Linked DNA regions of Homo sapiens: region 1 is linked to region 2. Evidence: fine-mapped expression QTL. A gene starts in region 2. The other region holds a variant in brackets. All regions are shown on one strand. Distances are from middle to middle.

What was found. PIP is the estimated chance that this variant, and not a neighbour inherited with it, causes the effect. A credible set is the group of variants that fine-mapping cannot tell apart.
Region 1: its variant is the best candidate, but not a certain one, in a credible set for the expression of NIFK in whole blood (INTERVAL, PIP 0.88).

Annotation. Positions count from the first base shown.
Region 1 is chr2:121,713,612-121,718,988 of GRCh38, reverse strand. All of the region lies in intron 3 of NIFK-AS1 (NIFK antisense RNA 1), which reads right to left. Among named protein-coding and RNA genes, the nearest start is that of NIFK, 21 kb to the left of the region's middle. The variant A/TA (reference allele first, on the strand shown) is at 3,198.
Region 2 is chr2:121,733,757-121,739,133 of GRCh38, reverse strand. It overlaps NIFK (nucleolar protein interacting with the FHA domain of MKI67), which reads left to right and starts at 2,259. Exons shown (of 7, transcript NM_032390.5): 1 at 2,259-2,388; 2 at 3,384-3,521. The coding sequence starts at 2,284. RefSeq lists a silencer at 1,773-2,222 and an enhancer at 2,323-2,372.

The DNA.
Region 1 (5,377 bases), 20 kb after region 2:
TGAAGAAGGCTAACAAGATTTCTATTCTTAAATGCTCAGCCTTGAAATAACTCAGAGCAATATAACGCTAGGTGGCAATAGATCCCAGGCACTTGAAATTTACAGTCAGCCTGGCACGGTGGCATGAACCTGAGGTCCCAGCTTCTGAGAAGGTTGAAGCAGGCAGAGAAAATCTACAGTTAACTCATTGCACTTAAAGAGATTGGCAAAAATCCAAAATTATTAAAGGGGTTTATACCCTAGTGTTAACTTTTTTTTTTTTGAGATGGAGTCTTGCTCTGTTGCCCAGGCTGGAGTGCAGTAGCGCAATCTCGGCTCACTGCAACCTCCATCTCCTGGGCTCAAGTAACTCTCCTACCTCAGCCTCCCGAGTAGCTGGGATTACAGGTGCCTGCCACCACGCCCAGCCAATTTTTGCCTTTTTAGTAGAGATGGGGCTTCACCACATTGGCCAGGCTGGTCTTGAACTCCTGACCTCAGGTGATCCACCCGCCTCGGCCTCCCAAAGTACTGTGATTACAGGCATGAGCCACTGTGCACGGCTGGAGTCTCACTCTTTTACCCAGGCTGGAGTGCACTGGTGCGATCTCGGTTCACTGCAGCTTCCGCCTCCCAGGTTCAAGCGATTCTCCTGCCTCAGCCTCCTGAATAGCTGAGATTACAAGCACCCGACACGACACCTGGCTAATTTTGTATTTTTAGTACAGACGGGGTTTCACCATGTTGGCCAGGCTGGTCTTGAACTCGTGACCTCAGGTGATCCACCTGCCTCGGCCTCCCAGAGTGCTGGGATTACAGGTGTGAGCCACTGCGCCCGGCCTCAGCCCACCAATGTCTACACTACTACAGGACAGAAACTACCACTATCAAATGCCCCTTAAGCAATTTGGTGCTTAGGAAACATCTTTCCAATAATTGACAATTGGTGAAAATATATTTACCAAATGGGTTTGGGTCACCAGCAATACAACATTCCAATGACATGAACCATGAAAATATTTACCTTATGAATTTGTGTATAAAGATGAAGAAATATAACTTCGATTAATTTTACAATATTTATGGGCAAATTATTTATTTATTTATTTATTTTATATAGAGATGGAGTCTCACTATATTGCCCAGGCTGGTCTCCAATTCCTGGCCTCAAGCAGTCCTCCCACCTTGACCTCCCAAAATGCTGGGATTATAGGCGTGAGCCGCTGTGCATGGCCAAAGCAGTTTTGGTTTGGTTTGGTTTGTATTGGTTTTTAGAGACAGGATCTCACTGTGTCGCCCTGGCTAGAGTGCAGTAGCATGATAATAGCTCACTGCAGCCTCGAACTCCTGGCCTAAGGTGATCCTCCCACCTTGGCCTCCTGAGTAGCTGAAACTATGGGAACTTGCATGAGGCCCGGCTAATTTTTTTTTTTTTCTTGAGACGGAGTTTTGCTCTTGTCACCCAGGGTGGAGTGCAATGGCATGGTCTCAGCTCACTGCAACCTCGGCCTCCCTGGTTCAAGTGATTCTCCTGCCTCAGCCTCCCAAGTAGATGGGATTACAGGCATCTGTAGCCACCACGCCCGGCTATTTTTTTGTATTTTTAGTAGAAATGGGGTTTCACCATGTTGACCAGGCTGGTCTCAAACTCCTGACTGACCTCAGGTGATCTGCCCACCTCCCAAAGTACTGGGATTATGGGCGTGAGCCACCGAGCCCAACCTTTTTTTTTTTTTTAGAAATGGGTCCTCAGTATGTTGCCCAGGCTGGTCTGGAATTCCTGGCCTCAAGTGATCCTCCTGCCTCAGTGTCCCAAATTGCTAGGATTACAGGCATGAGCCACTGCCCCTGGCCAGCAAATAATTATATATAATTATATACAGTGCATATAATGTTCTTAGGTATGTATTAAAATGATGGCTCTATGTAAAAAGAAAGTTTCGGCTGGGCGCAGTGGCTCACTCCTGTAATCCCAACACTTGGGAGGCCGAGGTGGATGGATCACTTGAGGTCAGGAGTTTAAGACCATCCTGGCCAACATGGTGAAACCCCGTCTCTACTAAAAATACAAAATTAGCTGGGTGTCCTGTCAGGTGCCTGTAATCCCAGCTGGGAGGCTGAGGCAAGAGAATCACTTGAACCTGGGAGCTGGAGATTGCAGTGAGCTGAGATTGCACCATTGCACTCCAACCTGTCAACAGAGTGAGACTCCGTCTCAAAAATAAATAAATAAATACATAAATACATAAATAAATAAATAAATAAATAAATAATTTTACACAAGAGAACTTTGCTTTAGTACCACAATCACTGTAAACACAATCTGTAGCCCTTGGTGTTCGGAGTATATTTCCTGTTTTCCAGTCACTGGGCTATTTTGGTTTTATTTCTTATTCATGAGGCCTGAACTATAAACACGAAGTAAACACTGGACTTAGAATTTGGAGCATTTTTCTACTTCAGCTAGTAAACCTCAACATTTTGGAAATATTTTTCAAGTTATATGTAGATGATCTATTTCTGTCCTTTTTCTCTCCAAAACAAATAAAGACAAAATAATAAAACAATTTGGCTAGTTAGGGTTTACCTGAGGTCAGGAGTTAATGTCCCGTCCCATTGATCCAATTAGAGAATGTTTCACATACCTGTCTACAAATTTATCCTGTTGCAGTAACCAATCTGTTTTATAATTAAGTAGCTTACCAATTATTGCAGTGGCCTGCTCTGCTTCAATTTCTATTAACAAAAAGAAAATGAACTTGTAGCAGTATCTCAGACATTACTTTTCTTTGCTGATAGGAGCCAATTTTGGAATCTCCCCTGTTATAAATAAATGCTGTCAACCCTACAAGGTCCAGGAAAAGAAATTCAGACATTTGATACTTGCCAAACGTAGTTTCCACAGCAAATGTGCCATAAGTAATGCTGTTGTTCTCTGTAGCTTCATTCACAGGTTCTATGATTTGGCTATTCAAAAGAGGAGTTTGCTGGTTTGGGGGAAAGTAGGACTCTTGCAAGAGGAACCTGGGGAAATATCCTAATTATCTGTCCCCAAAGAGAAAATGTTGAGATGTTTTTTGGCAGTGATGCAGGATACTCATTGGCAGCTTTTTTATTCTGAAGGACTGTGTTAATTTTTCTTCTATTTCTCCTTTAACACTTGGCTAGATGATAAATATTGTGGCTTTTCTCTAATTAACTTTTTTTTTTTTTTTTTT[A/TA]GACCAAGTTTTGCTCCTGTCGCCTGGTCTGGAGTGCAATGGTGCGATCTCGGCTCACTGCAACTTCCGCCTCCCTTGTTCAAGCAATTCTCCTGCCTCAGCCTCCCGAGTAGCTGAGATTACAGGCATGAGCCACCACAGGTGGCTAACTCTGTATTTTTAGTAGAGACGGGGTTTTTCCATGTTGTTCACGCTAGTCTCGAACTCCCGACCTCAGGTGATTTGCCCGCCTTGGCCTCTCAAAGTGTTGGGATTACAGGCATGAGCCACCGTGCCCGGACTTCTAATCAACTTTATAAAAAACAAAAACCGCTGCCAAGACATGCCTGGTATAATTTTAAAAACTGCACCCAGTAGTTTAGTAAATGCAAACCGTATAACTTCCCTACCTTGCAAATTTGTACTTAGCCAGCTATCTGATTTGATGTTAATGTAGAACCAGCCATAAAAAGGCATGTTATTCAGTCGGCTCCTTATTCTCCTGTGACTTTTTTTTTCCATTTAATTTATTATCTGAATAGGTAATACATGCAAATGGTATGAAAATTCACATGGCTTGAGAAGGTATCTCTGTCCCAGGCATTGCTCCTCTGCCCCAGTCCCCTGACCAGCTTGCTACTCAAGTGGACATGCCACCATCCTCCCCAGCTTCCCAGGCGGTATCCCCAGTGATGGGGACAAGGCTGGCACATCACATTTGTTTAATGAATGAATGCATTCAAAACATTCGTGAGTGCCCACCATGTGTCAAGCACTGGGGATCAGCAGTGAATAAAACAAAAATTCCTGACCCCACGAGGCTTATATTCAGCATTGCGAGACAAGCAATTACCAGATAAAGAAGTAAAGAAGGTCGGGTGCAGTGGCTCACACTTGTAATCCCAGCATTTTGGGAGGTCGAGGCGGGCAGATCACCGGATATCGGGAGTTCGAGACCAGCCTAGCCAACATGGTGAAACCCTGTCTGTACTAAAAATACAAAAAAATTAGCCAGGCATGGTGGTGGGAGCCTGTAATCCCATCTACTTGGGAGGCTGAGGCAGGAGAATTGCTTGAGCCCGGGAGGCGGAGGTTGTAGTGAGCAGAGATCATGCCATTGCACTCCAGTGTGGTTGACAGAGGGAGACTCCATCTAAAAAAAAAAAAAAAAAGAAGTAAAGAAATACATTATGTGGCACAAATGGTAAGTACTGTGGAGAAAAATAAAACAAGAAATGGGCTTAGGGACTTCTAGAGGTGGAAGTGGGACTGCCATTTTCAGTGGGTGATCAGGAAGGCCTCATACTGAACATGACATTTGAGTGATCTTTTTGAGGAATTCGGGGAGCCATGCAGAGATCTTGGAGGAAAAGCTTTTAAGGCAGAGGGAACAGCAAGTGCAAAGGCCCAGAGGCCAACCAGGCTGGGTTATTTTATTATTTTTACTTTTTTAGAGGTGGGGCTCACTCTGTCATCCAGGTGGGAGTGCAGTGGCATGATTATAGCTCACCGCAGCCTCGAATTCCTGGGCTCAAGCATTCCTCCTGCCTTGGCCTCTTGAGTAGCTGAGACTACAGGCGTGGTTATTTTAGAAACAGCAAGGGCACCAGTGTAGCTGGAACAGAGTTGCCAAGGGAGAAGTAGAGAAGGACAGTAAACAGATGCGTCAGGACCATGGAGGCCACTGTAAACCATTGGCTTTGACTCTGAGTGAGTCAGGAGCATCAGTGGGTTTACGGTTTAAGGGATCAATGCTCAATACTGCAGCACTGAGAATAGACTGTAAGGACACACAGGAGGTTGATGCTATTGCAGTAATCCAGATGGGCGTCAGTGGCGGGTTGGACCTGGTGATAGCAAGGAAAGTGAAAAGTGCTCACATTCTGGATAAATGTTGAAAGTAGGCTGGGCCTGGTGGCTCACCCCTGTAATCCCAGCATTTTGGGAGGTGGAGGTGGATGGATCACTTGTGCCCAGGAGTCTGAGACCAGCCTGGGCTACACAGAGAGACCCCATCTTTACAAAAAATAAAAAATTAGCTGGGCATGGTGGCACGTGCCTGTAGTCCCAGCTACTTGGGAGGGTAAGGCAGGAGGATAACTTGAGTCAAAGCTGCAGTGAGCTGAGATCATGCCACTGCACTCCAGCCTGGGTGACAGAGAGAGACTCCTCTGTCTCAAAAAAAGAAAAAAAAAAGGTGG
Region 2 (5,377 bases):
GGATTTCTCTGCCAGAGACACTGAGCTGGGGAGAGGAGACATTTGATATTAGATTTTGAACGCGTGGAACATGCTTCTATTGACTGACATCTGAGGAGCAATCACAAGTGCGGAGCTCTCCCCAAGATTTCATCCTGGGGGGAGCAAGAACAAGCCCATGGAAAGGGGCAGCCCTGAAAAAGAATCAAATTGCTCTTGCTCGCTCACTCCCGAAAATCCAGCCTACCCATGAAAACACAATGGGAAGACAGCGCTTAACTGGAAGAACTGACTTTGCTACAGGGTCAGGGATGCCCCCTTGGGGGTGACGGTGGCGCTGAGCCGGAGGGTGCAGGGGTGAAGGAGGCGAAGACTGTGAGCGTGGGAGGCACGTCTGTCAGAGGAAGTGGGCTGGCCTCGCTTGGCACTCCCTCCCAGGGCCTCCACCTCAGGCCCACAGGCCACTCTTCGGGCACACACACCCTGGGCCGCCTTCACGGCTTCCAGAACACGGCCGCAGCTATCCCCTGACACCAGCTGTGCTTGATCTGTCGCTCTCGCCTCACCTCCCTGCTTCCTCGGCAATCCACTCCCCACCCTTCCTCTCCACTCAGTTACTCACTAGTATAATAGTATTTGAAAGGTACAAACAGGCCGGGTGCGGTGGCTCACGCCTGTAATCCCAGCACTTTGGGAGGCCGAGGCGGGTAGATCACTTAAGGTCAGGGGTTCTCGACCAGCCTGGCCAAAATGGCGAAACCTCGTTTCTACTAAAAATACAAAAATTAGCCGGGAGTAGTGGTGTGCACCTGTAGTCCCAGCTAGTCGGGAGGCTGAGGAAGGAGAATTGCTTGAACCCAGGAGGCGGAGGTTGCAGTGAGTGAGCCAAAATCGCGCCACTGCACTCCAGCCTGGACGACAGAACGAGACTCCGTCTCAAAAAAAAAAAAAGAAAAGAAAGATGCAAACAGCCACAGCCTCGCTTTAAACCCGCCCATCCCCTCGCATTTACAAAACCCCAGTTTCATACTTTGACACACAGTCATGGGGCTCCAGCCTGCCGCCTCGCAGCTCTTCCCTCCTGTGCTGGGCTCCAACCCCACTGCCGCGTCCTTCTTTCTAGACCTAGGAACACTGTGCAGGCCTGTCCGGTCCAGCGGACGGCAGGCGCTCGGTTCTCCACACCCCGCTCTTTAGCCTTCAGGCCTCGGTGCTAACGCCACCTCCTAAGGGGGACCCTCCGGCGCCACCCAGTGTGCCTCTCCCCCACAAGCCTCTTTGGTCTCTTAAAGCAGCCATGCTGCCCTCAGGCTGTAAGTTCTCCAAGGGCCGCGGACGGACGGGGCCACACAGGAGAGCTCACACACAAGTGAGTGAAAGAATAACCAAATTAGGGCCGGGCGCGGTGGCTCACGCCTGTTATCCCAGTACTTTGGGAGGCTGAGGCGGGTGGATCACCTGAGGTCAGGAGTTCGAGACCAGCCTGGCCAACATGGTGAAACCCCGTTTCTACTAAACATACAAATTAAGCTGGGAGTGGTAACGTACAAATTAAGCTGGGAGTGGTGGCGGGCGCCTGTAATCAGCTACTCGGAAGACTGAGGCAGGAGAATCGCTTGAACCCGGGAGGCGGAAGTTGGAAGTTGCAGTGAGCCGAGATTGCGCCATTGCACTCCAGCCTGGGCAACCAAAGCGAAACTCTGTCTCAAAAAAAAATAATAATAATAATAAGCAAATTGAGGAATGAGAGCAGCATCTCAAGGACACAGGTACTGTTTTGGAATTTATTTTAGACCTTTTTTGAAAGTAGGCGTGAACGTAATTGTTTCAGGCACTCTTAAGCGAAGCCAGCCGGCGCCCCGACAGCCGAGGGTGCGGGAGCTCCCCACGGCCCAGCCCCAGCCCCAGACCCCGCTGCCGCGCCTCGGCACGCCCCTGCGCCCCGCCTCCGCGCCTCGGCGCTACTCACGCCCCGCCCTCCGCTCCTCGTCACGCCCCATGTCGCGCCTCCGCGCGACTCACGCCTCTCCCAGTCTCTCGGCACGACCTCGTGCCCCGCCCTCGCCCCTGGCGCAATTTATGCCCCGCCCCGCGCCTCGCCACACCCCGTGCCCCGCCCCCGCTTCTCCGGGCAACTCCTGCTCCAACCCCGCGCCCGACTCATGGCCCTCCCCGCCCCTCGCCACGCCTCGCCTCGCCTTAGCGCTTCGCCCCGCCCCTGTCCTGCCTCTACTTCCGCCTCGGGGGAGCTGGGAGCCCGACGTTTCCGGGAGCGCCGCGTGGTTAGCGTCGGCGGCTTTTGGCATGGCGACTTTTTCTGGCCCGGCTGGGCCAATCCTGTCGCTTAATCCGCAGGAAGATGTCGAGTTTCAAAAGGAGGTGGCGCAGGTTCGCAAGCGCATAACCCAGGTGAGCAGGCACCCTGGCCCAGGCTGCGAGCGGGGGCGATGGACCGGGTCTAGAGGGTATCTGGGGTTGCACGGTTTCCGGCCCGGGCGCCCCTTGCCTTCGTGCTCGCCTTCATTACCTCCAGGGTCTCCCAAGTGGATTCGACCGAATCAGGGACCGACCTCTTAAGCTTGCAGGCCACGGTTTCCGAGACGAAAGGGTTTACGCTGTTCGGTAAATGATGGAGGGGTTTGGCCGCTGAGGCCCTGGAGCCTTCATGTGGAGGGTAACGGGGAAGTATTGGGGTGACAGAAGCAGTAGAAAGAACCAGCTGGAGGGAATAGGCTCCTATACCACAGGTTATCTCCGGGTTAGAGCTGTCACGCTTCCGCGTTTCCCCCAAAAATGGGAGCCCCAGACTTAACACATTCGGGAAGTTTGTATGCCGGGTTGGTGATCTGGGAGTTATTAAAATAGAGTATTTGCCAGGTTCCACTTGCTGACTAGGGCCCCTGACATCGCTTATACTTTCTGTGGTTTTTAGCATAAAATACACAGGAAAACTTAGAAGTTCCTGTTACAGAGGTAAGGCTATGATGACTGAGACGTTGAAAGGCTAATCTGTACCGTGAGAGTTAACAAGCGTATCGAAAATTTTTCGATGAAGTGCGAGTAAACAGTAATATGCATACCAAATTGAAGCCTACGTTTATGTAGAGTTCTCTGGGCAGAAGATCTAAAATGGCTTGTTCAAAGATGTCCTTGCTTATCCGTTGATTGACATAGTTATTGAGCTCTAATATTATACTGGGTGCTGGGATGCCAGGCTGGAAAGATAGTTGACTACTGCTTGACCATGGCCTTTGTGGGGAGAGAAACACTAAACAGCCAGTTCTTTAATTACTACTGTGGTAAGTGGAAATGCAGAATAGGTTCTTGGGCCGAGGGCTAGGGGTTTTGTTACAATGTGATTTTCTTATTTATATATTTAATTTACCTGGTCTTTACGTCTTTAGCGAAAAAAACAAGAACAACTTACTCCTGGAGTAGTCTATGTGCGCCACCTACCTAACCTACTTGACGAAACCCAGATCTTTTCATATTTCTCCCAGTTTGGCACTGTGACACGGTTCAGGCTGTCCAGAAGTAAAAGGGTAAGATTTTTGCAGTTGGATTTAATGTTTTGTTTTTCAAATGTGTATTATCCTTGACATTAAAGAGCACGTTCACGCATACATTATTGCTTATCAGATTTCATTCCAAAAAGGAGAGTGGAGGAGGTTTAGAATCTGAAACAGCTACAGGAGCAAAATCAGTATTATTGTAAAAGTTTGTTTTTTACATTTCTCCAAATCCTTACATTAAATTGACAGTCCTGGTAAATGAGCTTTAGTATGAGGCCCAGGTTTATACATTTTCTTGTGTTAGCCTTTGGTACAAGCATCCTTATAATAGCAAAGGTTTATATAGTGAATAGTTAAAGGTGAGGACTCTGGAGTTGGACTGCTGAGGTTTGGGGTCAGGCTCTACACCTTACTAGTTAGAGTGATATGACCTTACCATGTTTCAGTGTTGTGATCTGTTAAATATAAGTAAAACTTCCTGGGAGTATTTAGTCAAAGGTTAAATATAAAGTCTTTAGAGGATTGCTTGGTACACAATAAACACTATATAAGTATAATTACTATTTGTGTCATACCTGCCTTCTAATGAGAAAACGCTTTACATAGCTTGTTTCAATAGTGGAGGAGTGACCCACTTTCTTTTCTTTCCCCGCACATAAACTTTAATTGGTTGTAGCCATAGACACCTATTTGATTTAGCATGTGGGGGATAGGGTGCACATCCATCATCTGTTAGTTGTCGTAAAGATAGATTGTAGGTAGAATTGAGGTCCCTTTTGTACCCTTCCCAGTGCTCTTCAACTTCTTTAATTAGGGAATTAAATTCACAAATTCAGTTTTCTTTTTTTTGAGACTGAGGCTTGCACTGTCGCCCGGGCTGGAGTGCAGTGGTACAATCTCAGCTCACTGCAACCTCCGCTTCCCGGGTTCAAGCAATTCTCCTTGCGTCACCTTCCCAAGTAGCTGGGATTACAGGCGCCTGCCACCATGCCTGGCTAATTTTTTGTGTGTTTTACTAGAGACGGGGTTTCACTATGTTGGCCAGGCTGGTCTCGAACTCCTGACCTTGTGATCCTCCCGCCTCGGCCTCCCAAAGTGCTGAGATTACAGGCGTGAGCCAGTGCGCCCGGCCACAAATTCAGTTTTCATTGCTATATATAAGTTTTTACTATATATATATGTACTAGAATACATATGTGTACATATATAAATGTACATATGGTATTATTTTAAAATTATATTACTCTATCATTCTTCAGCTGAATTTTTGTATTCAATAATCTGAGCTTTATCCATGTAACTCTATTGCCTTTGTTATCATCATTGCTCATTACTTAGGTTACTAAAGTTTATCCACCCTCCTATTGAACATTAGGTTTTGTTTTGGGGGGCGATCTCGGCTCACTGCAACCTCTGCCTCCCAGATTCAAGTGATTCTCTTTCCTCACCCTCCTGAGTGGCTGGGATTACAGGTACCGGCCACTGCACCTGGCTAATTTTTGTATTTTTAGTAGAAACAGTGTTTCTACTAAACACTGTTTTGGCCAGGCTGGTCTCAAACTCCTGACCTCAGATGATCCGCCCACCTCGGCCTCCCAAGGTACTGGGATTACAAGCATGAGCGAGCCACTGTGCCCAGCCCGAACATTAGGTTTTTTAATATTTTTAACTCTTTAGATTAAGCTGCTAGGAACAATCTTTGTACAGGTATAGGCAGAATTTTCTAGAAGAGTATTTTGCAGACTTTGGCTCACAATAAGAGGTAAGTTTTTACCATCACAAAGAAGATGAGGGTTTTAAAAAAAGTTTTACAGCACAAACCAGCACACATACATATGCATGTAAGCATAACTGAAATAAAAGCCAAATGAGACAATATTTAAACT